Linked DNA regions of Homo sapiens. The main gene of each other region encodes a partner of the protein of the gene in region 3 in a complex. Each region holds a gene or a part of one and is shown on either strand. Other genes may lie near its edges. The genes, in order: TIMM21, COA1, SMIM20 and CMC1.

Evidence for each region.
Region 1: SMIM20 (region 3) and TIMM21 share a complex: the UniProt entries of both Homo sapiens proteins name them as parts of the MITRAC (mitochondrial translation regulation assembly intermediate of cytochrome c oxidase complex) complex.
Region 2: SMIM20 (region 3) and COA1 share a complex: the UniProt entries of both Homo sapiens proteins name them as parts of the MITRAC (mitochondrial translation regulation assembly intermediate of cytochrome c oxidase complex) complex.
Region 4: SMIM20 (region 3) and CMC1 share a complex: the UniProt entries of both Homo sapiens proteins name them as parts of the MITRAC (mitochondrial translation regulation assembly intermediate of cytochrome c oxidase complex) complex.

The regions. Positions count from the first base shown.
Region 1 is NC_000018.10:74,158,505-74,161,054, reverse strand, and holds the end of TIMM21 (mitochondrial import inner membrane translocase subunit Tim21 precursor), read right to left. Parts: 3' UTR 524-2,550; downstream 1-523. UniProt on the Homo sapiens protein: Participates in the translocation of transit peptide-containing proteins across the mitochondrial inner membrane.
Region 2 is NC_000007.14:43,719,515-43,726,555, forward strand, and holds part of COA1 (cytochrome c oxidase assembly factor 1 homolog), read right to left. Parts: intron 1-7,041. UniProt on the Homo sapiens protein: Component of the MITRAC (mitochondrial translation regulation assembly intermediate of cytochrome c oxidase complex) complex, that regulates cytochrome c oxidase assembly.
Region 3 is NC_000004.12:25,909,932-25,917,237, reverse strand, and holds the start of SMIM20 (small integral membrane protein 20), read right to left. Parts: upstream 3,019-7,306; 5' UTR 2,925-3,018; coding exon 2,816-2,924; intron 1-2,815.
Region 4 is NC_000003.12:28,244,598-28,251,638, forward strand, and holds part of CMC1 (COX assembly mitochondrial protein homolog), read left to right. Parts: intron 1-7,041. UniProt on the Homo sapiens protein: Component of the MITRAC (mitochondrial translation regulation assembly intermediate of cytochrome c oxidase complex) complex, that regulates cytochrome c oxidase assembly.

The DNA.
Region 1 (2,550 bases), on a different chromosome or scaffold from region 3:
GTTGCATGAAATCTAACAGATGGAACACATGAGTGGTACTATATAAAATAAATAGTAAGTGTAACCCTGAGTAGAAATCTATGAATTAGGAATTGGGGAACTGTCTCTGGATGAGAATAAGAGAAACAGAAGTAATATTGTAATGGCTTACCAAATGGAAATAAATGGATAAAGTATTACTAGCATTGATCAACAATAGTTATGAAGGGAGCTTGCAGGGTAGTTAGGCTGGAAATCTCACGGGGCTAAAAGCAGAACTTCTGATAAACTCTTGCCTTGCATATAATTTCTTCATTAAGGAGGAAGAGCAAACAGTGACAGGAGAGTCTGCTCTAGAGTTAGTTGTGAAAAGAGTTCACTGATCAGGTGTGGAGGAATGACAGAGGCCTTGGAGGAAAATGACCAGAGCATTTGCAAATTCACAAATATGACGGAAGGGGATACCAGGCAGAGTCAGATAAGTGCCCTAGAATTCAGAGAAAAAGTGGGAGTAAGCCCATGGACAGAGACACCACAATCAAAGTGGATTAAAGAGGGTCTTAAAACACAGAAATTTTAACATTTAGTAGGGTACATCAGAGGGAATGAAAACAGAGATCTAGAGAGTTACACATCACATTTTCCTGTGGCTATACAGAAGAATCTCTTATTGGTACAGAGTTTTTCCTTTTGAAAAAGTAATTTAGTTTTATTTCTAATTATAAAAGCTCAGATCTGTTTTTTGTTTTTTTTTTTTGAGACGAAGTCACACTCCGTCACTCATGCTGGAGTGCAGTGACATGATCTTGGCTCACTGCAACCTCTGCCTCCTGGGTTCAAGCGCTTCTCCTGTCTCCTGAGTAGATGAGATTACAGGAGTGTGTCAACGTGCCTGGTTAATTTTTTTTTTTTTGAATTTTTAGTAGATAGGGTTTCACCATGTTGGCCAGGCTGGTCTTGAACTCCTGACCTCCAGTGATTGACCTGCCTCAGCCTCCCAAAGTGCTGGGATTATAGGCATGAGCCACCTCGCCTGGCCAAAAGCTCAGATCTTAAAGGGGCATGAGCATATTGTAAAATGGCAGGTGCATAAAAATGAATACAGAAAAAGCAAACAGTCTTAAGTCAAATGACAGGGCCATGGAGGGTGGCTAAATCCCCACCTGAGCTCAGATGCCGGGCTTCTTCAGCAAGCTACAGTTTGAGCAGGTTGTTTGAAGAGCAGGGCTGCTTTTTTGAGTTTAGGATAGCAAGTGGAACTTCTCAGCCTGTTAAATGTTGACATTTCAGTGAATCCTGAAACTGAACATTCTATAGCAAAGGAAAAAACGATTAGGAGAGAAAGCCTAAGTTAAGGCCTCATTCAGTCAAAGTGTGTTACGTCAGGGAGACGAGTGTCTGTTATATTTTCTATACTCCTTAAATGTTGGAAATTTTTATAATTAAAAACATCTAAAACAAGCAGTCAAACCAAGAAACTAACTAAATTAAGCAGGGAGATAAAGTAAAAAGGGGAGATAGATTGCCTGGAGGTCTCTCTATCCTGAATATCCCAAAATTTCAAGAACACATCAGAAATTCCTCTACAGACAGTTCTCGGGGAGAAGGAACAAACACATCAGAGGGGATACCTCACACTGAAGCCACCGCAGATAAACATGGTTCTAGACCCCTCCCAATGCACATAGCACTTACATAGATATGGAATCAGGATCTTGTAAGTGAAGGTCACTTTTTTCCAAATCCCCAGCAAATATTTCAAATAAAATAGAATTTCCTTTTTTTTTTTTTTTTTCTTTAAGGGGCCTCACACACGTATTTGAATGTCTCTCATTCACTCCCATGTTCTTTTGGCAGTCAGAAGTATCAGTGCAAGTAAGTTCTAAAGGGGATGAGGGCACTTCATGGCTGCCTTCTATGGTCCAGGCTTGTACCTCTCATCACACTGCCATCCTAACAACCCACACAACAGGGACACTTGACCACGCACCTGCTAGAAAAGGTGGGGTGGGTGCCCAGGTCTACCCAACTTGGGAGTGTGTACTTTTCCCGCTATGTACTAGGCCCTTAATTCATGAAGCGCGAAATATGAGACAGATTCCTAAAACTCACACAATTTTGAAGAATGTATTTACCATCTGGTTCCCTATGGCCCTCAACCATTTTCACATGCTTATCTCAAGTCAGATTCCAAAGTATGCGGAGGGCAGCTGCTAATGACATATTTGTTAGTTTTAATTTTATTCTGCAGACATTATGCAGTTCTATAATATAAAATGAATACAATACTAAAATCTATTTCCTTTATTTACATGGTGTAACATTTCCAATAACAAACATTTCTAATCATGAAAGATGGTGTTAAAGCAGAAATATTGTCATGATTGAGTCAATGGGAGAACATAAAATATGCTGTATTTCATAATTTTTCCGTAAGAAAATGTCTAGTTTGTTTAAATGCAACAAATACTGTATTAGATTCACTTTATAAGCCATACACTCCTTCTTGTCTTTCTTTTGAACACATTCTGGAAGGCAGCTGTGAAGAACGGAGTAGCGAGTCCACGCCAT
Region 2 (7,041 bases), on a different chromosome or scaffold from region 3:
TACCAAATATAAAGGATTATCCACAACTAACAGTATTACAGGTAATCACTGTCGAGTTCTAAATTTCCTTTTCTATTAGAACATAACTTTCCCCACACACCGAATCTGTACTCAGGTGTGCATTTATCCCTAGATTCAGTCTGAGGAGTTGAAAAGTGACAAAGGGATGGATGGCTTCCTGACTACTATGAAAATGTCCCCTGACCCACATATTTCAATATAGTATTAAGCCTTGTTTTCATTACCTGAAATGTATGTTTGCTTACAAACAGGTTTCCTTGAATCTATTCTCCCCACCTCCTCCAATCAAGGAGCAAAGAGAACACCAGAGAAGCTGGAGCACAGTGAACAAGGGGAAACTGGCATGAGATGAGACTATAACAGAAAGAAGAGAGGCCACATCACAGAACAGGGAGGAGGGAGGAATGTTGTGGGTCAAGTTAAATATTTGGGGTTTATTCTACGTAAAATAAAAAGTAAAAGGCCAGGCATGGTGGCTCACACCTGTAATCCCAGCACTTTGGGAGGCCAAGGTGGGCGGGTCACTTGAGGTCAGGAGTTCAAGACCAGCCTGGCCAACATGGTGAAACCCCATCTCTACTAAAATCATAAAAATTAGCCAGGCATGGTGGCGGGCACCTGTAATCCCAGCTACTCGGGAGGCTGAGGCAGGAGAATTGCTTGAAACCGGGAGGAAAGATTGCAGTGAGCCAAGATCGCACCACTGCACTCCAGCCTGGGCAACAAAGCAAAACTCTGTCAAAAAAAAAAAGGAAAAAAAGAGTTCCAATGCTCAGTATAATTTTGTGTTTTTATTGTGGGAAGCAGTAATGTTGCATCCCTGCCTTTCCTCTTTATTAAGCGTTTTATCTAAGTATGATGGACTAGAAAGGATAAAATCAACATGGTCCCCTTCCTTTTTCTTTTTTTTTCAGAAACTTACAAACTTTCTCACAAACTTGTTTAAGAATAAAAATATGGGGAGTGACATGATCAGATTTTACATTTTTTAAAAATGGCTGCTGTGTGAAAAATAGGGGTAATAATATATCCTGGCAGATCAATTAGGAAGCAGTATATCTAGGTGAAAAATCATTGTTCTGTGCAACGAGAGAGGTAAAGATGAAGTGGCCATATTTGAAAATATTTAGGAGGTAGAATTTAGAGAACACTGAGAGGTCTTAAAGTGACCCTGGATATTACTCAGGAGCCTCTGGATGAATGGCAGCCCCAGTCCCTAGGGAAGTATATACTGCCAGACATTAAGTTGCTGGAAGTATAAAGAAAAAGAGAATCCATTTTTTGGATGGGTTAGCTTCGAAAACCTATGAGTCACCTAAGTGCAAATGTCTCACAAGCTTCCTCTTCATCATTTCTCACTGAACATCTCCATTAAGGCTTCACAATCAGGATGCTGGCAATTAGAACCTGTATCTTTCTTCCATGGCTGCTCCATTTACTGATCAATGCCACCAACTACCAGAGATGTTATAAAGGGATTCCTACATGTGATAGAGAAGGCTGAAACATAAAACATCTGAAGTCACACTGATAAGCCTCTATTACTCACAGATTCATCCACAACACTGGAGTTATTCCCGCTACAAAGGTTAACCTTAAGGAAAGAGTTAATTCATAATTCTGCAAACACTGAAAACAAATACAAATGTATTAAGGAATACTTTTATCCATAGACTGCTTTACTAGTAACATTACAAGAATAAGATGAATTTTGAAATAGACTTTAAAAAATAATTTCAATAGTTAAATGTCAGTTCTTAATTAACCATCTTGATTTTCTGATGTAAAAAATGTACAGCAATTATCGTCCAGCTGACAAAAAGCCACAATCTTTATTAGTAAATCCTATTATATAGCACAACACTGCCACCTGTTGGAAGAGATAACTAGCCAAATGTTTTTATTCCTAAACACTAAATGCATGAGAAAGTTTATGAATTTCTCAAAAAAAAATGAAGAGACTGTTGACTTTATCCTTTCTAGCCCAACATGCTTAGATTAAATCCCTAATAAAGAGGAAAAGCAAGGATGTAATGTAACTGCTTCCCACAATAAAAACACAAAATGGCATTTACTTTTTGGTTTTGGTTATTTGGGTAAGGGGAAGATTTAACCATGAAGAGATAGCACTAGGGAGTTTTTGAGGTGAGGCAACTATTCTGCATCCTGACTATGGTGTTGGTTATAGAAATCAGTACATGGGTTAAAATTTATAATATAAAAAGTTTATTTTACTGTACGGTAATTTAAAAAAAAAACAAGGTAAGAGAATACAAATACTCAGTACCATGGGAAAAGTCGTAAGTTATAATGTGAAAGTATTCACATAAATTTCAAAGTTTTGCTACTTATAGCTCAAAGGCTTGAAGCCCAAAAAACATTAGAAAGATTCTAATGTAATACTGCATGCTGACATACTTAAATATGGATGTAGAAGTGTTTCTAAAGACTACCATTGCACACCAGAAGTCAATCTTTGCCCCTAGCACAGAACATTTCAATGAGAGGAACAATCTATAACCAAAAGTTAGGACATTCACCGTTGATTCTGGTAACTTTTTTTTTTTTTTTTTGAGACAGGGTCTCACTCTGTCACTCAGGCTGGAGTGCAGTGGCGCCACTGCAACTCACTACAGCCTCGACCTCCCAGACTCAGGTGATCTTCCCACCTCAGCCTCCTGAGCAGCTGGAACCAAAGGTGTGCACCACCATGCCCAGCTAGTTCTTTTGTATTTTTAGTAGAGAGATGGGGTTTCGCCACTTTGCCCAAGCTGGTCTCAAACTCCTGGACTCAAGTGATCTGCCCACCTTGGCCCCCCAAAGTGCTGGGATTACAGGCATGAGCCACCACGCCTGGCTAGGAAATGCTTTTCCCTACGACAAAACGAGAGTCTCGTTCTATCGCCCAGGCTAGAGTGCAATGGCACAATCTCAGCTCCCTGCAACCTCTGCCTCCCAGGTTCAAGAGATTCTTGTGCCTCGTACCAGCTGCGAGTAGCTAGGACTACAGGCACATGCCATCACGCCCAGCTAATTTTTGTATTTTTAGTAGAGACGGGGTTTCACCATGTTGGCCAGGCTGGTCTGGAACTCCTGATCTCAAGTGATCCGACTGCCTTGGCCTCCCAAAGTGCTGGGATTACAGGCATGAGCCACCACGCCCAGCTAGTACATTCTTTATGTGATTGCATTTCATCTCCCTCAAAAAGCTGGTGCATAAACAGGGAAAGTTGGGTGCTTGGCATCTATGTAATCTTGGTATTTGCTAGATCACTTATGAATGCAAGTGACATCAAAGTTCCACGAGATCTGGAACATCTAAGTCCATCTGGGGACCTTTCCAGTACATTTGCAAATGCCAAATGTCTTAAGGCACCAAGAGCCCACAAGATAAAAGATCACCAGAGTCCAAATGACAGAGACCCAAACTAAGAGCAAAAGTCACATTAAGATACCAGTTCCTCCCATCTCTCCTGATAATATACTTGCTGTTAATAAAATGATATGGGTTGTAAAGTAATAATGAAATATTAAACTGAGACCTTATGAAAGCTGTTGCAATGGGAGGGAGAGGTTGGTAGAAAGGGTGTAACACATATAATCCTCTACCCTTTATCCCTTAGGGCTGCCCTTAAGCCATCCTGTTCCCAGGATCTGGCAGCTACATGCAATCTTAGTTTTCTAAGTTTTGGTTGAGCCACACTGTTGTCTGTTTTTCTACATTTTCCCAGTGATCCCTGGGAGGTCACAGCTATTCAAATGGATTGCAGTACCCACAATAATTTGCAGTTCCAACAACAGGAGAATAGTTGAAAAAAGAATGATACAGTCGTAAAAGAGAATAATGCTGGTCATCTCCTAATCTTCAACTAATGACATGGTTATATTTGCATTGAGGGAGGTAAACTTGCCTGTCAGAAGCAGCAATAGTCACAGCACACCAGGGTAATTGCCAAAGCATCCAAATGGAGCAGTAGTATGATACCGGAATAATTCACAGACTTTTGGAACTATACAAGTTTGCAAACTCACCTCCATTTTAGAGTCTGTCATGATGGGTAATTTCCCCAAAAAGACTAAAAACACAGAAAGCATTAAGAAAAAAAAAAGGCCAGGCAAGGTGGCTCACACCTGTAATCCCAGCACTTTGGGAGGCTGAGGTGGGCGGATCGCTTGAGCTCAGGAGTTTGAGCCCAGCCTGGGCAACATGGCAAAATCCCATCTCAACAAAAAATATAAAAATTAGCCCGGCGTGGTGGCATGTGCCTGTAGTCCCAACTACTTGAGGGGCTAAAGCAGGAGGATCACTTGAGCCCATGAGGTCAAGGCTGCACTGAGCCATGTTCATGGCACTGCACTCCAGCCTGGGTGACAAAGTGAGACCCTGTCTCAAAAAACAAAAACCAAAAAATCTTGGATCATAGAGATGTTTACAATTTGGAAAACTATCCATGATAAACTTTTTATTTAGTCTGAATTGCAATAATTTTAAAACTCAAAGATCTCCAAGTCCTAATACAAAAACACCTACACCCCTTCAAGTAGGAAATAGTCCTTTGGAAAGGTAAACGTGATAATCCATGCCTAAATTACACAATTCCTTTAAATCTCATCTTTTATGCAAATAACAAAAACACTAAAGCATACGGGCAGTTCCTCAAAAAAATCAACAGAATTACCCTACAATCCAGCAATTCCACTTCTGGATACGTATACCTAAAAGAACTGAAAGCACAGCCAGGCGCGGTGGCTCACACCTGTTATCCCAGCACTTTGGGACACTGAGGTGGGCGGATCCCTTGAGGTCAGGAGTTCAAGACCAGCCTGGCCAACATAGCAAAACCCTGTCTCTACTAAAAATATAAAAATTAGCCTGCGTGGTGGTGCACGCCTGTAGTCCCAGCTACTCGAGAGGCTGAGGCAGGAGAATCACTTGAACCAGGAGGCAGAGGTTGCAGTGAGCCAAGATCACACCACTGCACTCCAGCCTGGGAGACAGAGCAAGACTCCATCTCAAAGAAAAAAAAAAAAAGAATTGAAAGCAGGAACTCAGACATTTGTATACCAATGTTCACAGCAGCACTATTCACAATAGCCAAAAGGTGGCAACAACCCAAATATCTATCGACTAATGAATGGATAAACAAAATGTGTTCTATGGAATACAATGTAATACTATTCAGTCTTTAAAAAAATGAAAATTCCAACACATGCCACAACATGAATTAACCTTGAAGACATGCTAAATGAAATAAACCAGACTCAAAAGGACAAATATTTTATGATTCCACTTTTATGAGGACCCTAGAATAGTCACATTCATAGACAGAAAATATAATGGTAGTTGCCAGGGACTGGAAAGAGGGAGGAACGGAGATTTATCATTTAATGGGTGCAGTGTGTGGAGATAAAAGTGCTCTGGGTCGGGCGCAGTGGCGCACGCCTGCAATCCCAGCACTTTGGGAGGCTGAGGTGGGCAGATCACCTGAGGTCGAGAGTTCAAGACCAGCATGACCAACATGGAGAAACCCCGTCTGTACTAAAAATACAAAATTAGCTAGGTGTGGTGGCGCATGCCTGTAATCCCAGCTACTCGGGAGGCTGAGGCAGGAGAATCACTTGAACCCGGGAGGTGGGGGTTGCGGTAAGCTGAGAACACGCCACTGCACTCCAGCCAGGGCAACATGAACGAAACTCCATCTCAAAAAAAAAAAAAGAAAAAGAAAAAAGTGTTCTGGAGATAGATGGTGGTTATGGTTACACAACAATGTTAAAGTACTTAATGGCACTGAACTGTATCTTTACAAATAGTTAAAATGGCCAATTTTATGTTATGTATATTCTATCACAATTTTAAAAAAGAAAAGACAAAACACTGAAACAAGAAACACACAGTTCTAACTGGAATCAAGCCAAGGGGAAAGAATGAAATCTTGGCCATTATATGTAAACAGAGAGATGCAATTTTTTTCTGGAAGCTATTGTATATCACTTTCCTTAGATTCTCAAAATGCTCAGTTTCTAAAAATACTTTTACTACTGGCTGGGCGCAATGGCTCATGCCTATAACCCCAGCACTTTAGGAGGCCGAGGCGGTGGATCACCTGAGGTCAGGAGTTCCAGACCAACCTAGCCAGCATGGTGAAACCCCGTCTCTACTATAAAACAAAAAAATTAGCTGGGCATGGTGGCAGTCACCTGTAATCTCAGCTACTCAGGAGGCTGGGGCAGGAGAATCACTTGAACCCAGGAGGCGGAGGTTGCAGTAAGCCGAGATCGCACCATTGCACTCCAGCCTGGGTACCAAGAGCGAAACTCCATCTCAAAAAATATATATATTATATATATACTATATATATTACTACTACTGCCTTTTAACCAACAAAATTAAAAAAATACAAAACAATGTTAATAGGATTTTATAAAACTACTTTTTCCAACATGCCCCAAACAATACAGAACACAATAGCTACACTCAACCTCTGCATACATTAAATAATCTTCAAATAAATGCCTGCTAGTATGAAAAAAGTACCTACTATTTGGTGACCAACTGTCCAATATGGCTCTCACAAATCTAATGCAGCATATGAAACATGAACAAGAGGATAAAAGAATAACTTCTTGGAGTCTGTTTAAAATAGAGAGTTAAATGAACAAAGTTGAAGCAGATCATGGCACATTTTTCAAGGCAGAGAGACAGGGAGGCAACAATGTCTGAAACAATGAACACTCTTAGGCTAAATATACCACCAGGGACTCAGATGTCACACTAACTGGGAACTACTATGTCAGTTTCTATAACTCCTATAATTAAAGAACAATATCCTAAACTATTAGCCAGAAGGCTTTTAGAGGCAAAGTCCTGACTACACAAAAATGTAAAACAATATAGTAAAAAATATAAAACAAAGTTAACTAAATAGATTGAAAATATCTGCCACATATCTAACAGTCAATGGCTTAAATCCCTACACAAAGAACTCCTAAAAATCAATAAAGACAAAACTCCATACGGAA
Region 3 (7,306 bases):
TCTAGTAGGCTATGCAGACACTCATCTCCCCCATTGCCTTTTCTTGCCCCCTTAGACAAGCAGTATGCTGTCTTGGTTTAGGGATTAAGGATATTAATTCAAGTCCCAGATCTGTGACTCATCAGCTGTAGGTCCTTGTGTAAGTAATTTAACTGTTTCACACCTCAGTTTGTCCACATATAAAATGGGGATGATGATCATATAGCAGCTGCCACAAAGGGCTGTTATCAACACTAAATGGGTTAATATATAGGAAGTGCTTAGAAGAGTGCCAAACATATAGTAAACTTCCCACAAATATTACCTGTTCAGCAATATTTACCTGTTTAAAAGAATCAGTTGCTGGCACTGAAGGCGAAAGCTGTGTAAACGCTCTGCCCATTACAAATGTTACAGCAGTCAGTTTGTAACACTAGCACTTTGGGAGGCTGAGGCAGGAGGATCGCTTGAGGTGAGGTGTTTAAGACCAGCCTGGCCAACATGGCAGAATGCTGTCTCTACTAAAAATACAAAAATTAGCCAGGACTGGTGGTGCATGCCTGGATTCCCAGCTACTTGGGAGGCTGAGGCACAAGAATCACTTGAACCTGGGAGGCAGAGGTTGCGGTGAGCCGAGATCATGCCACTGCACTCCAGCCTGGGCGACAGAGGGAGACTGTCTCAGAAAAAAGAATCAGTTACGATCCCCAGAAAAGAGTTGGCCAAATTAATCAAAATGGAACCAGAGGCCAGGCGTGGTGGCTCACACCTATAATCCCAGCACTTTGGGAGGCCAAGGCGGGTGGATCACCTAAGGTCAGGAGTTCGAGACCAGCCTGGCCAACATGGTGAAACCCTGTCTCTACTAAAATATACAAAAATTAGCTGGGCATGGTGGCAGGTACCTGTAATTCCAGCTACTCAGGAGGCTGAAGCAGGAGAATTGCTTGAACCTGGGAGATGGAGACTGCAGTGCGCCGAGATCAGGCCACTGCACTCCAGCCTGGGTGACAGCGGAAAAAAAGAAAAAAAAACAAAAAGGAACCAGAAAAGTGGGAAGGCACAGACTGCCTGCCTTCTAGTTAAAAATGCAGATATTATAGTTACATTCACTAAATGTTCACCCACAGATGAACATCACCTGATTTGTCTGTCTCAAGACATTCAGACAACCACAGATTCTGGAGTATCCCTAAAAGACTGTTGCTGGGATACACAGTACAAGTCCCCATCTTGACCATTTCATCTCAAGCAGGGTTTCTCAACCAAGGCACCACTCGAATTTTAAGCTGGGTAATTCTTTGTCATGGGGGTCTGTCTTGTATGCACTGCAAAAAGTTTAGCAGTATCCCTGGCATCTATCCACAAGAAACCAGTAGCAACACTCGACCCCCCCCCCGCCCCATCCCAAGTTGTGACAAGCAAAAATGTCTCCAGATTGAGCCAAATATCCTGCGGGGCAAAATCACCCCTAGATGAGAACCACAGCTCTAGTTTTCAGAACTGACTTTTCCAATGGGATGCAAAGCAGACCCTTTGTCCCAAGTTCTAGTGGCCTCAATATAATCGCTGGGGCAGGCGTCCGCTGAAGAAGGATGGTGGAAACAGATCCCGCAGGGCTTCACACAGCCCACCTTACTCCCACGCATGGTGCATGCAGATAAGCTGGAAGGCAGAACACAGTGGCCATTTCAGTCTTGGCTAATGAAAAGAAGCTACAAGGAAATCTGAGTGTGCACTTAAAACGCTCTGCCTCCAGAAATCGACTGCTGCAACATTTGTAATGGGCAGAACATTTACACGGAGCTTTCGCCTTCAATTCGCCAAGCTTTCAGTGTCCGTTAATATTCCCAAGGGACAGGGTTGGCCCTCTTCCATCTTCAAGATGATTCGGGTTTCCTGGTGAACAAAATGAGCCTCTAATGCCTAATATTTTCTGTCTGACAGATGGTTTCAGATGTATCAAAGTGCTAATCCTTGCTGAGGTATAGGTCTCAAGGAAGAAGAGTTTGGCTTTTAGAATGATAGGACTGGAATGATTAAGAAGGAAAATTACTCCCAGGATTTCACCATTACCATGTGAGCAATCGGCTTAAAACGAAGGAAACAAGCAGAATCGGAAAAACAATTTGAGGAAAAAGAAGAGAAAACACTACAAACCCCAGGTTAACAGTTTGGGTTTGAAACAGTCCCACTCAAAAAACATCTTGGGGAGTGGAAATGAAGTGCAGTAAAAGCACCTTTCCACTCAGAAGGATCAGGGTTCCATCTGGCTCCCCCAGTCACCATTCTCAGCCTGGGTGCTTGGAGGAGGCTCTGGACAGAGGCCTGGGGTTGGATATATTTGCCTTGTCACTTACTTGCTGTGTGACCTTGGGAACGTTATAAAACCTCTGAGCCTCTCAGTTCCCTCATTTGTAAAATGGGCATGTTTTACATATATACTTCAAGGTGAGCTTGTGCAAATGAAACGATCCAACATATGCCTAACCTGACGTGTAATAGGCATTCAGTGAATTTTAACTGTAAATATGAACTGGTACTTAGCGTCGACTTATGTGAGGACTGCTTTCATATACATGATCACCTGAGTCTCACAGGAGGCTCGGCATTTTAGCATAGATGACGTAGCCACAAACATTCACAGATGAGGATACTGAGAGTCCTAGAGGTTGAGCAACTTGTCCACGGTCACAAAGCTGCACATGGCAGGATTCGAACCCGGCTCTCCCTAACCCTCGAGCCAAGTTCTTTCCACGGCACCACGTGGAGCTCACAGAGGGGAGGTGTGTGTGTTGGGGAGTCAGGTCACCGCAAGGGGTTAGAGATCACTCACTGTACTCCTCCAATCTCATTAGGGGCCGGAAGTAGATGGGATAGAAGGCGGCGCCGATCAGGGAGATGAAGCCGCCGAAAATGAGCGCGGTGCGCAGGTTCCGGGACATGGCGTCAGGCCCCGGGCTGCCCTGACCCGCCGACCGCCCGGCACTCTCGGAAACCAGGTTACCGACGGCCGGGCCGTGACCCCGCTCGGAAGAGGTGGAGAGGCTTTCGCTTCCGGGCCTTGAGGGAGGGACGAGGAGGAGGGGCGGAGCGGAGAAAGAGACAGGGGTGGAGTCAGAGGCGGGGCCTCAAGGCTGGGGGCGGGGCCAGGAAAGGGGTGGGGTCACAGGCGGGGCCTCGGACCCCGCCCTCCGCCTTCCCCGGGATTCCGTGCTGTGCGGGCCGGGCGCTGGCGTTGGATTGAGGTTGGAGCTGTTTTGCTGCACTCGATTCCCGCGGGCCCTGTTCTGTCTACTTTCCTTCCTTCGGCCCGGTTCCTCCCTCAGCACCCTCCAGACCTCCTTTACCATCGCCTTCTTTACCAGCCAGCTTTCTCGTCCATCCCCCGTTAATTTCTTAATTAGCGACTGTCCGCCGTGCGCCAGATGCTCTCTGTCGCTCGCGCAATTAATCCTTTTATCAGTCTGCTTAGTTTACAGGAGAGGGAACCGCGGCTCCGCTGCGCGGCTTTGGACGAGTCACTCGTCCTTCTTGAGGGAGGTTTGTACGTATCAGAGACAAAGGGGCAAATCTCTGGCCCGAGAGGGCCTGCTGGGGGATTCTAAAACCGGAGCTGCGGGGCTTCTGCACCAAGACTAGCCTAGGAGGAACGTTGTTTCAGCATCCGAGCTACTCTCTTTCTCCATCCCATCCTCTCTCCCTCCATCCCATCCTCTCTCCCTGTTCCCTGTGCTGGGATGCCTTGGCCAAGGCAGAGAGCCAGCATCCGGTCCCATCCATGGGGCCACGGGGCGCTTCCGTATTGTCTGGGTGGGGGCCACCGAGAACAGATACCTGTTTCCTCCTCCTCAAGTTGCCATCCTCCGCCCTCTGCACCACACTGCCCTTACAAGTGGGCTGTGCCTGACTATGACCTGCCCAGGGATACTGGGCAGCTGAGACACAGATTCCTTGGGCCTCCATGCCTTTATAAATAGGAATCATGCCAGCAGCTGGGCCTGGGGAGCAAAGAGGATATCTGTCTTGACCCTAGCAGCATTATTTAGGCCACAACAGATCTACAAGCGTTTCAAAATAGCTTGGAGAGGACAGGTTTCCTCTTTCTTTGTAATCTTGTAGTTGCATCAAGCTACTGTCTACCTCTGTGGCTCTAGAAGCATGTAAATCAGTTATTCAATCTCTCCCCAGATTCATGGACTATCTGCCATGCCCCAAACACCAGGCAGAGTGCTAAGGGGACACAAAGATGAATAAGATGTGACCCCTGCTCTCTAGGATCCTGTCGCATAGATGAAGAGATAGAACATATCCATAAAAAGATAACTAATGACCGACATTGCGTGCTGCCGACACGTGTTATGGTCCTGCGGGCTACAGAAATTCAGAGGAGGAAGACAGATGACTGCAGTGTGGCAGCTGCTCCTCGGGCACTTACAGGAGCTTGTTAGGATGAGGACAGAAGACTTCATAGCACAGAGGGAACTGTGACACCAGCTTTATATCACACGATAGAAAATACCCAGGTGAGGGCTGTGGACAGTGGCTCACGCCTGTAATCCTAGCACTTTGGGAGGCTGAGGTGGGTGGATCATGAGGTCAGGAGTTCGAGACCAGACTGGCCAGCATGGTGAAACCCCGTCTCTACTAAAAATACAAAAAAATTAGCCGGGCGTGGTGGTGCACGCCTGTAGTCCCAGCTACCTGGGAGGCTGAGGCAAGAGAATAGCTGGAACCTGGGAGGCAGAGCTTGCAGTGAGCTGAGATCGCTCCACTGCACTCCAGCCTGGGTGACAGAGTGAGACTCCGTCTCAAAAGAAACAAAAAACAAAAAGAAAGAAAATACCCAGGTGTAGTGGGCATCGTCGTTTTATCAGCCCTGTGGCCACTTCCCTTTTTTCTGTGAATAGTACCCCAAGTATCTTTCTGGGACCCACTCTTTTCCCACTCTTGGTCCATGAGATAACCTAGGACTCCCCATCCTCATCCTACTTCTTCCCAGCTCTGAAAGTTAAGCATAAGGGCCTGACCAAGCTTCCTCGTCACAGGGATTGGTTGGCACCCAGGACTCAGTCTTGAGGTTAGTATTGATTAGGAGTCAGTCCTGAACACCTAATGTAGTTGCATCCTCCTGGCCACATGACCCAAGCTGAGCCAACCATAGTCTATTCCAGCTACTGGAAAGTTGGATTTGAACTTGAGCGAATGAGACTCGAGCTACTGGGGGCCATCATTTAGGAACTGAAAAGGAAGTCAGTACAGCAGAAGGAGGGCTGAGAGGTGGGGAGAAATCAGATGCTAGTGTTGCATTTGTGCCAGCTGTATCTCAGAAGAGCTCTACCCCTAGACTGCTCAGTAACATGAGCAATAGAGTCCCCCTTTCTCTGAAGCCAGTTTGAGTTGGGTTCTGTCTTTTACAACAGAAGGAGTTCCAGATAAAATCTCTGAGGATGTGACTCCACTTGGAGCTGCAAGGCAAGGATTACTGAGCTGCAAGGCAAGGATTACTCTATTTTATAGATCTGGTCACTGACAGCCAGAGACCAGAACTCTCCTGAGGTCACACAGCATTGGCCGAGGTCTTAGCTCTTGTGATGTCTGATCTGAAATGCTCCTCCATGAGATCTTGCTGTCTCCATGAGCAAGCTTGGCAGGATGGCCAGCCAAGCCCTGCTCACGGGCACCTGCAAGCCAGTAAGGAGCGTTGCCAGGAGAACAGAGCATCGTGATGAGGTACTGGGAGTGCCTCTAAGGCAAGGACAAGTCCATTGTGGCAGATGAGCCTCTCCCTCTCCAAGGTGATGTGCCAAGTGACTCGTGGTTTCTCTTGTCTCCTTGATGCTGATCTAAAGGCGTTAGTTGACCAGCAGAAATGATTAGGCCATCTAGATCATTTGTATAGGTAATTGACATCAACACACCAGAAAACAGTTACCTATCACTTACTTGCCACTGAGTCCTGCCAAATGCAAGCTCATCTCTTTGATTCCCGTGTTTTCCCCATTTCTGAGAAAACCACACTCCTCCAGTTTTTCTTTTCCCTCTGACCTATCAATTAAATCAGCAAATACTTATTGTGTGCCTACTCCCATGCAAAACATTGTACTAGTTGATTGGGAACACAGAAGGAATCATTCAATATTTGTGAATTCAGTAATGGTTCATTGAGCCAGGCACAATATGCCAGATGCTTTTCAGGTGCTGGTGAACACAGCGGTGAGGAAAACAGCAGAATCTATTGTCCTCATGGTGTCCACAGTCTGGTGGAGGGATAAGATGTAGTAGAGGATAGTAATTGTTTTTTGGCCACCCACTGTGCCTTGATAAAAACTGATGTCTTTTGGAGAATGACCTCTTATCTTGGCATTTTTGGATAGACTGCAATTTCAGGGGCCTTGTGTATTCCTAATCAATGCTAACATCAAGATTTGTAGAACACTTGCCCTCTATAGTCAGTATCACAGGTTTGCTCACTTTGTGCTCACCAATACCTATGGATAGGTATCCTCATGTTCAGAGGGGGAAGCTGGGGCATACTGAGAATGACTTGATCACATGGCTGGTAAATGGTGGAGCCAGGATTCAAACCGAGCCTGGCTAGTTCCAGATACTGCTCTTAACCACCAATCTACAATGTTTTATGATGTCAGGGAGCTTGGTTGCCTGGGTGTGGGGATGATCCAGCTGGATCATTTGGTCCAATTGTTCTTTTTCTCCCAGAAATAAGGACGATGAAGACAGTGACGCAAAGACGGACAGCATTGTTGGAGTAGCTGTCTTCCATTGCTAATGTTCTGATGTGATCATCGTATACCTCCCACTTGCCTGTAATCCTGGAGCTTCCCTGGTTGTTTCCCCTTGCAGTCTGATTCTTGAGCGTTCATTATATTCTGCAGGCCACCCCATATGCTTCCAATAAAGTCCCTTTGGACTTAAGTTAGAGTCAGTTTCAGTGGCATGCCACCAGGAGTGCTAATAGATACAGAAATTAACACAATTACCTCCTACACATGGCATGGATGAAAGCACTTGGGGCTTCATCACTGTGCTAATGTTTGGGAAAGGCAAAGGAAGTTTGAGTTTGGGGGAACGTATTTGTGTAAAGGGAGAGAGAGCTCCAGGGATGTAGGGAGACAGGATGCAAGTCAGATATGTCGGCAGTCCTAGGGTGCATATTTTCATCTCAATCACTGGGGGGAAGAATTGGGTTGGGCTCCTCTCTGGCACTTTCTCCCTCTTCCCTTGGATGTGAAGATTGAATGCTTGCAGGGAGCAGACTGCCAGTGGTGTATCGCACAGGGTTCAGACAGACATCAAAGTTAATCCG
Region 4 (7,041 bases), on a different chromosome or scaffold from region 3:
ACACGCCTGTAGTCCCAGCTACTCAGGAGGCTGAGGAATGAGAATTTGAGCCTGGAAGGCAGCGGTTGCAGTGAGCCGAGGTTGCGCCACTGCACTCCAGCTTGGGCCACAGAGTGAGACTTCGTCTCAAAAAAAAAAAAAAGAGGAAATAGGGATAATTCCAGTTTTTGTACGTCAGCAGCTGGGTGGAAGGTCATGGTCAAATCTAACAATGTGATTATTGGAAACTTCATCAAAGGAAGGAATGGAAGCAATGGAGAGTAAAAAAGTGGAGTCAGCAAGTAGGAAGGTTTTTTTTTTTTTCCCTAAATTGTTTTGTCTGTTTAAATTCCAGAATAAAATGTATGGAAGCCAGTTTTTTTTTTTTTTTAATTTCGTGTTTATTTGGTTCATACGTTGAAGCTTAGTTTCACATTTTGATGTTTTACTGCTTTGTACAGCCCACGATGGTATTTGCCCATATTGAGTAAGTGAATAATAGATACACCAATTGAGGTTCATTTAGCAAAATCTGTTTTCCTATTGGTTTATTTTGTATTTTCTGTGATCTTTATAGAAGCTTGATTTTCATTTGGCAGCAACTTTTAATTAACTTTGTAGGGTCTCTGTTTTCCTCAAGAAACTGTGAACCCAGCGAAAAAATGCAGGTTACATGCTTATACATAGTTTTATTTACATTATTTTCCTTTTTTTTGTTAATGTAGCAGTAATAACAGCAATCTTTGCTTATTGCCATGTTCCGGACAAATTTTCAGACATGATTATATTCTCAGATGATGGCCCATAGGAACCTGCACCTGATAAATTTGATTTTTCACTTTCTCTATCAACTAAAGTAATTCCTTTCTCCCTTCTTTGACCTTTCCCCTTTTTAGTTAGGTTCTCTTCCCTCTGTCAACATAGATTCATTCTCTACTTATGCAGAATGGGGCATGGCAGCCTAAGGGAAGTTTCCTTAATCAGGTGTGTGTGTGTCCCTGTGTCCTTCTATTGCTGTTTTTTTCCGGGAACTTAATAAAAGGAGGAAGATGGGACAGAGATAGGGCTTAGGGGGTGGAAAGTGGGTTCAAGAATTTCATGACATTCCATGAGAAGGTGTTTAAGGTATATGTGTCTTGGGAAGATTTAATTATGGATGTTCTTGGAACATTTGGGTTGCAGTACTCCAAGTTGGGGTTCTTTCAGTGGTTCCTGTGGGAATGTAGGTAAATTACCTTTAGGGGTACAGGAACAGTACTAGCCCTTACATTTACTAGAAAATTTTAAGTTAGACATGTAAACAAACTTGAAGAATCTTTTTTGAGCATTGTATGTTTAATATGTAAAAGGTTGTGGAGTTGATTAGAAAAATTTTTTATTTTTTTTAGTGATGGGGTTTCACCATGTCGCTTAGGCTGCACTTGAACTCCTTGCTCAGGAGCACTTGAACTCCTGGGCTCAAGTAATCTGCCCACCTCGGCCTCCCAAAGTGCTGGGATTATAGGCATAAGCCACCCTGCCTGGCCTATAAGAAAAATTTTGATTTTATTATTGCCGCCATATCTCTAGAGTATCTTCTTAGACATAAATTACGTTGGTGGCTCAGAACAAAAAAAAAAAGACCTAACATCTACATTTTGTATATTTATAAATTAAAAGCATATTTGCCATAGAAAATACATTATTTTTGTCTCATCGGATTAACAACTCTCTGATGGTTGCTCTGTGAAATTTGAAAAACACAGGCTTAAGCAAAGACAATAAGAAAGAAGAATTGAGATCAAAGAGGAGTATGTGCCATGGCAGTGGGTTGGGGGTTGGGATTTCAGTTTTGAAGCATGAAATGATCTGTAAACCATTTCAAGGATTTTGAATTTTATACTAAGAACAATGGGAAGACACTGCAAGTTTTTAGGTAACGGAGTGACAAACAGAACTCTCCTTATTTTGTGTTGATCTGACTTTTGTTTAGATCAAGAATAACCTTGATCTCAGCCACATACTGCATACATGATGTGTCTTTCCAGAGTATCCCATCTGGAGGTACATGGGTATCTGTCTCTCGTAGGTGATGTTAATTTTGATTACCCACTCAAGGTTTTGCCCTGTTTTGTTGCCGTATTTTCTCTGTTTTGCAATTAGTAACTAATCTGTGGGAAGGTTAAGACCTTGTAAATATTTGCTTCTCATCAAATATTTCTCTTTGATTTGGGGTCCATTGATTTTTTTTTTTTTTTTTTTTACCTGATTCAGTCTTTCCCATAATGGTTGCAAAATAATGATTTTCTACCTCCAGCACACTCCCTTCACATTTACTAGATGGTTGTTGACATTTTACTGTAAGCAAGAGATTGCTTTGTTTCATTTTCATTGATTTATGAATTTATTATTGGTATTTTTGGTAAGGACTCATGAACTGCTGTATTTTCAATCGTTTGTACTCTGTTAATGTACATAAGTATTTTTTGTGTTCAAATTTCCCCAGATTTGGCCAGAGTTCCCTTTAAGCTAGCTTCTGGATCTTTGTCATATACTCTCACCATTTTTTTGAGCATTTCCTTTTTATTCCCTCACACAAGGTATCACTGCTTCATCTTGTACCTACCCTGGCCAATCCATACAATTAGTTATTTCTCTGAGAAGCCCTGGTTCCTTTTATTTGGGCACAGTATTAGAGAGTAAGAGCTGGTCACTAGAACTGCATGTAATTTGGGTGGTTTATTAATAGATTGCCTTTAGGAAAAGAAAAAAAAAACCCTTAAGAGAGTAAGGAAAATAGGAGACGGGAGGGGAAAAATCTGAGCAAGGATGTGGTTTCAGGTCTTAACCTAATCAGCTCTGGTGTACCACATGGTACATACAGTTTATTGTGCCTTGGAGGCAAGGGAGCTGGGCTTTCATGCCCTTTTTCAGTCATTGGTTACTGTAGTAGTTGGGAGAGGGACAGCAGCAAGGAAAACAGCAAAGGGCTACCATGGCCAGGGGCAGTCCTGAGAAGGTTGCAGATGTGAATGCTCCAACATTCTCTGCTGCAGGAGGGATACCAGCTCTATCCTAAAAATAATTTATCTGAATCTGTTAGGAATCTTAGTTGGATAGTAAGAGTTTTGATAGTAGTGAGAGTTCAGATAGTGACAGGTCAGATAGGAATGGGTACTTGCACACATGTATACATACACACAGGTGTGTGTACTGCATCCAGTAAAGTGTCACAGGTTGTGGTTAACAAGTTTGAATAACACTGGCTTAAGATATACCTAAGGTAGGCTAAGCTGTACTTTTTTTTTTGTCTTCTAGGCCATCGTACATGCTGTTCTCTCTAGAATTTCTCCCATCTTCCCTATCCCCAGGTCTACTGAATTCTTGTTCATTTTTCACAACTCAATTTAAAATCAGTTTCTTAGGAGAGTTTTCCTGATTGCCACCACCTCCAGTTAAACATTTTTTTTTAAGGTTTAGGATTAAAAACTCCACCAAAATATCATATAACCTATGTATAGAGTTGTTTTCCTTTTAGATATAAAATCCTTTTCTTTGACGAATAAAAGGAAACCTTTTATTCAGATATGATGCGCCTATATGTAACAAATAATTGGAGAAATAAAGAAAAACATAATTTGAAGAATGGGAATGTTCTACCTGTGTAATAAATAGTAAATATTTTTCATATGAATCCACCTCTTTAAATTCATTAGAGACCAGATAAAAGGATAGGTCAGTTAATTTCACCTAGATTATAGAAGATTGGCCACCTCCTCCCAGGGAGGTAGTGTACTGTTGTGGAATCAACACCGAATTTGGGAGTTAGTAAGACTGACTTATTGTCTCAGACTTTGTCATTAACCTGTCCTTAATGACATAATATGAGGTTTGAGGATGAGAAGTAGGGAAAGAGATGTATCAGATAATTGCTAAGGTTGCTTCAAGCCTTGAACTTTTATGATTCTAAATATTAATACTTGTCATAGGTCTCAAGGGGTTCTTGACTCCACACAGAAATAAATTCAAGTTTGTGTCTTGTTGCCTGGATTAGTATCTTTTTTAATTTTTTGTTTGGGGTGTTAAAATCATATGTGTAAAATTCTGTAGATGTCAAAAATATGAGAAGTATTACCTTGTACTTGATATAAGTGGACCAAACAAAATTGTGCCCAAATAAAACTATTGATACCCAAGTTAACATTCTCCCCGACAATCCTCTGTTCTATTTTTGCATTTTTTCTTTTTTTTTGAGACAGAGTCTCGCTCTGTTGCCCAGGCTGGAGTGCAGTGGCGTGATCTCAGCTCACTGCAAGCTCCGCTTCCTGGGTTTGTGCCATTCTTCTGCCTCAGTCTCCTAAGTAGCTGGGACTACAGGCGCCCACCACCATGTCCGGCTAATTTTTTTGTATTTTTAGTAGAGATGGGGTTTCACTGTGTTAGCCAGGATGGTCTCGATCTCCTGACCTTGTGATCTGCCTGCCTCAGCCTCCCAAAGTGCTGGGATTACAGGCGTGAGCCACTGCGCCCAGCCTATTTTTGCATTTTTAAGTAAGAAGATTGAAGGAAAAAATTGCTAAGAATGTGGTGTTTACCATCCTGCATTGTGTTTTGCTAAAGAACTGTTACTGGGAGATTCTTACAGATCAAAAGATATGTTAATTACCTAAACATGACTAATTGGAATGTAGAGTATCACATGTTTATGCTGCAGAGTAAGGAACCTTGCTTGACTGATTCATTATTGTATACACAATCCCTGGTGTGGTGATTGGTACATAATAGGTACATACGTATTTGTTTACAGTGTATCTGTAACTATCAAATACTAAAACTCTTTTAAATATACGTGTCATTTGTTAAACAGTTAAAACAATTTTATTGCATATTTACCATATGCTAGGAGTTAGAGGGAATTACAAAGATGAGTTAGACGTGGTCTCTGACCTCATTAAAGTTAACTTTTACTTGCAGTAGTTCTCAGTCTAGCTGCATATTATAATTATTTGGGGAGCCTTAAAAAATATCAATGCCTGGCTTTTACCCCAGCATTTCTGATTTAACTGGTCTGGGGTGGGGCCCAAGCATTAAGAATTTTGTACAGCCCTCTCAGGTGGTTCTTGGGTACAGCCAGGGTTGAGAGCTTCTGGTACCAAAATCTGTCTTAGTCTACTCAGGCTGCCATAACAAAATCCCATAGACTGACTTGAGTGACCCACACAACATAGACTGGGTGGCTTAAAAAATGTACATTAATTTTTTTTACTATTCTGGAGGCTAGGAAGTTCAAGACCAAGATTCAAGGAGATCTGGTTGCTGACAAGGACTCTCTTCCTGACTTGCAGATGGCTGCCTTCTCCCTGTGTGTTTACATGGCAGTGAGCGGGGAGGGATGGGGGAAGAGGAGGTTGAGGGAGGAGGAGGAGAGAACGAGAAGGAGAGAGAGCCCTCTGCTTCTTATGAGGCCACTAATCCTATCGAATTAAGGCCTCACCTTTATGACCGCATTTGACCTTAATTACCTCCCAAAAGCACTGTCTCCACATACAGTCACATTGAGGGTTAGGGATTCAACATATGAATTTGGAGAATGGTAAACACAATTCAACTCATGCCAACCACTGATCTAGCAGGAGAAGATTGGATATATAGTGTGATGTGATGTGTTTAAGTCCAGGTGTGATTATAGCAACAGAACGAGTGCAGGCAAAATCTTGGGGTTAGAGGAAGGAGAAATCACTTTTTAGTGCTGGAGGTCAGGAAGAACTTTGGGATGGAGAAATGTTGAATTGAGTTTTAAATAAGTAAACTTTGATAACAAAAAATAAGAGGTTGAAGATGGAAAATAAAGACTGAGATTGAACTAGAGTTTGGCTTTACCTGTTACTTGCCGGGTAATGCTGCAAGATTGCTTTGAGCTTTCTGAGTCTTAATTTCTTTGTATCTGCTTCTAAATGAGATGATGTTTGTAAACCAGTTCCATCCACCACCCTTTTCTTCTTTCTGTAAATATTTATCGTGTTGCTTCTGTGTACTATATAACTATAAGCCGATTTTTCAGGTAAGAAGGGTAACATAACCACTAGGTTGGCAAAATGAAGGTTTACATTGTAGGAAATTTAAGTTGGAATTGAGCTGCTGGTGGGACTTAGAAACCACCAGTAGATAGTTGAAAATGTGGAAAGTTGGAGATGGAGATGAGCACTGAGAACTCAGTATCATAAACACTATCTTTAAAGGTGGAACCTTGTGGGATTGCCCCAGGAGGATTAAGTACAGATATTACCTTGGAAGTGTGTATAGTTCTAGTATTGTTACCATTGTTCAGGATATTTTTGAAACTCCTTTAAGATTTCCCTTTGGATTCTTCAGTACACTCGTCTTAATATCCTCATTTTGGCAAATCTTTGTTCTGAAAGTTAATTTGAATTTCAGCCAAGGTTTAACCAGAGACAGTCTGGTGAAGGTGATAGACGATCATCCTGGGAAATGCTGCCTCTTCCCTTGTCTCAGTTTGTTTTATGTTGCTATAAATGAATACCTTAGGATGAGTAATTTATAAAGAAAGAAGTGTATTTAGCTCACAGTTCTGCAAGCTATACAGGAAGCATGGCATCTGCTTGGCTTCTGATGAGAACATTTATGCTGTGTCAGAACATGGCAGAGAAGATCAAAGGGGAAGCGGGCATGTGTGAAGAGGGACCAAACGTGAGAGGTGTCCTGACTTTTACAACAATCCAGTCTCTTGGGAACTAGTCATTTTCTCTGAGAACCAGCCCACTCTGAAGAACTAGTCCACTCCAGCAAGAGCAGGAATTCATTACTGCTAGAAGGGCACAAAGCTGTTCATGAGACATCTGCCCTCGTGTCCCAAACACATCCCATTAGGGACCACCTCCTTACACTGCCACACTGGGGATCAGATTTCAACATGAGATTTGGTGGGGACAAACCATATCCAAACCATATTGCTCCCACCCCAAAAAAGTTATATTATGGAACTGGTTTTCATGTTTACTTCAGATTAGCTCTGAAGCCATACCAAGAAAGATGATGTGATTTGAGCAAAGGCTGAGTCTTTGA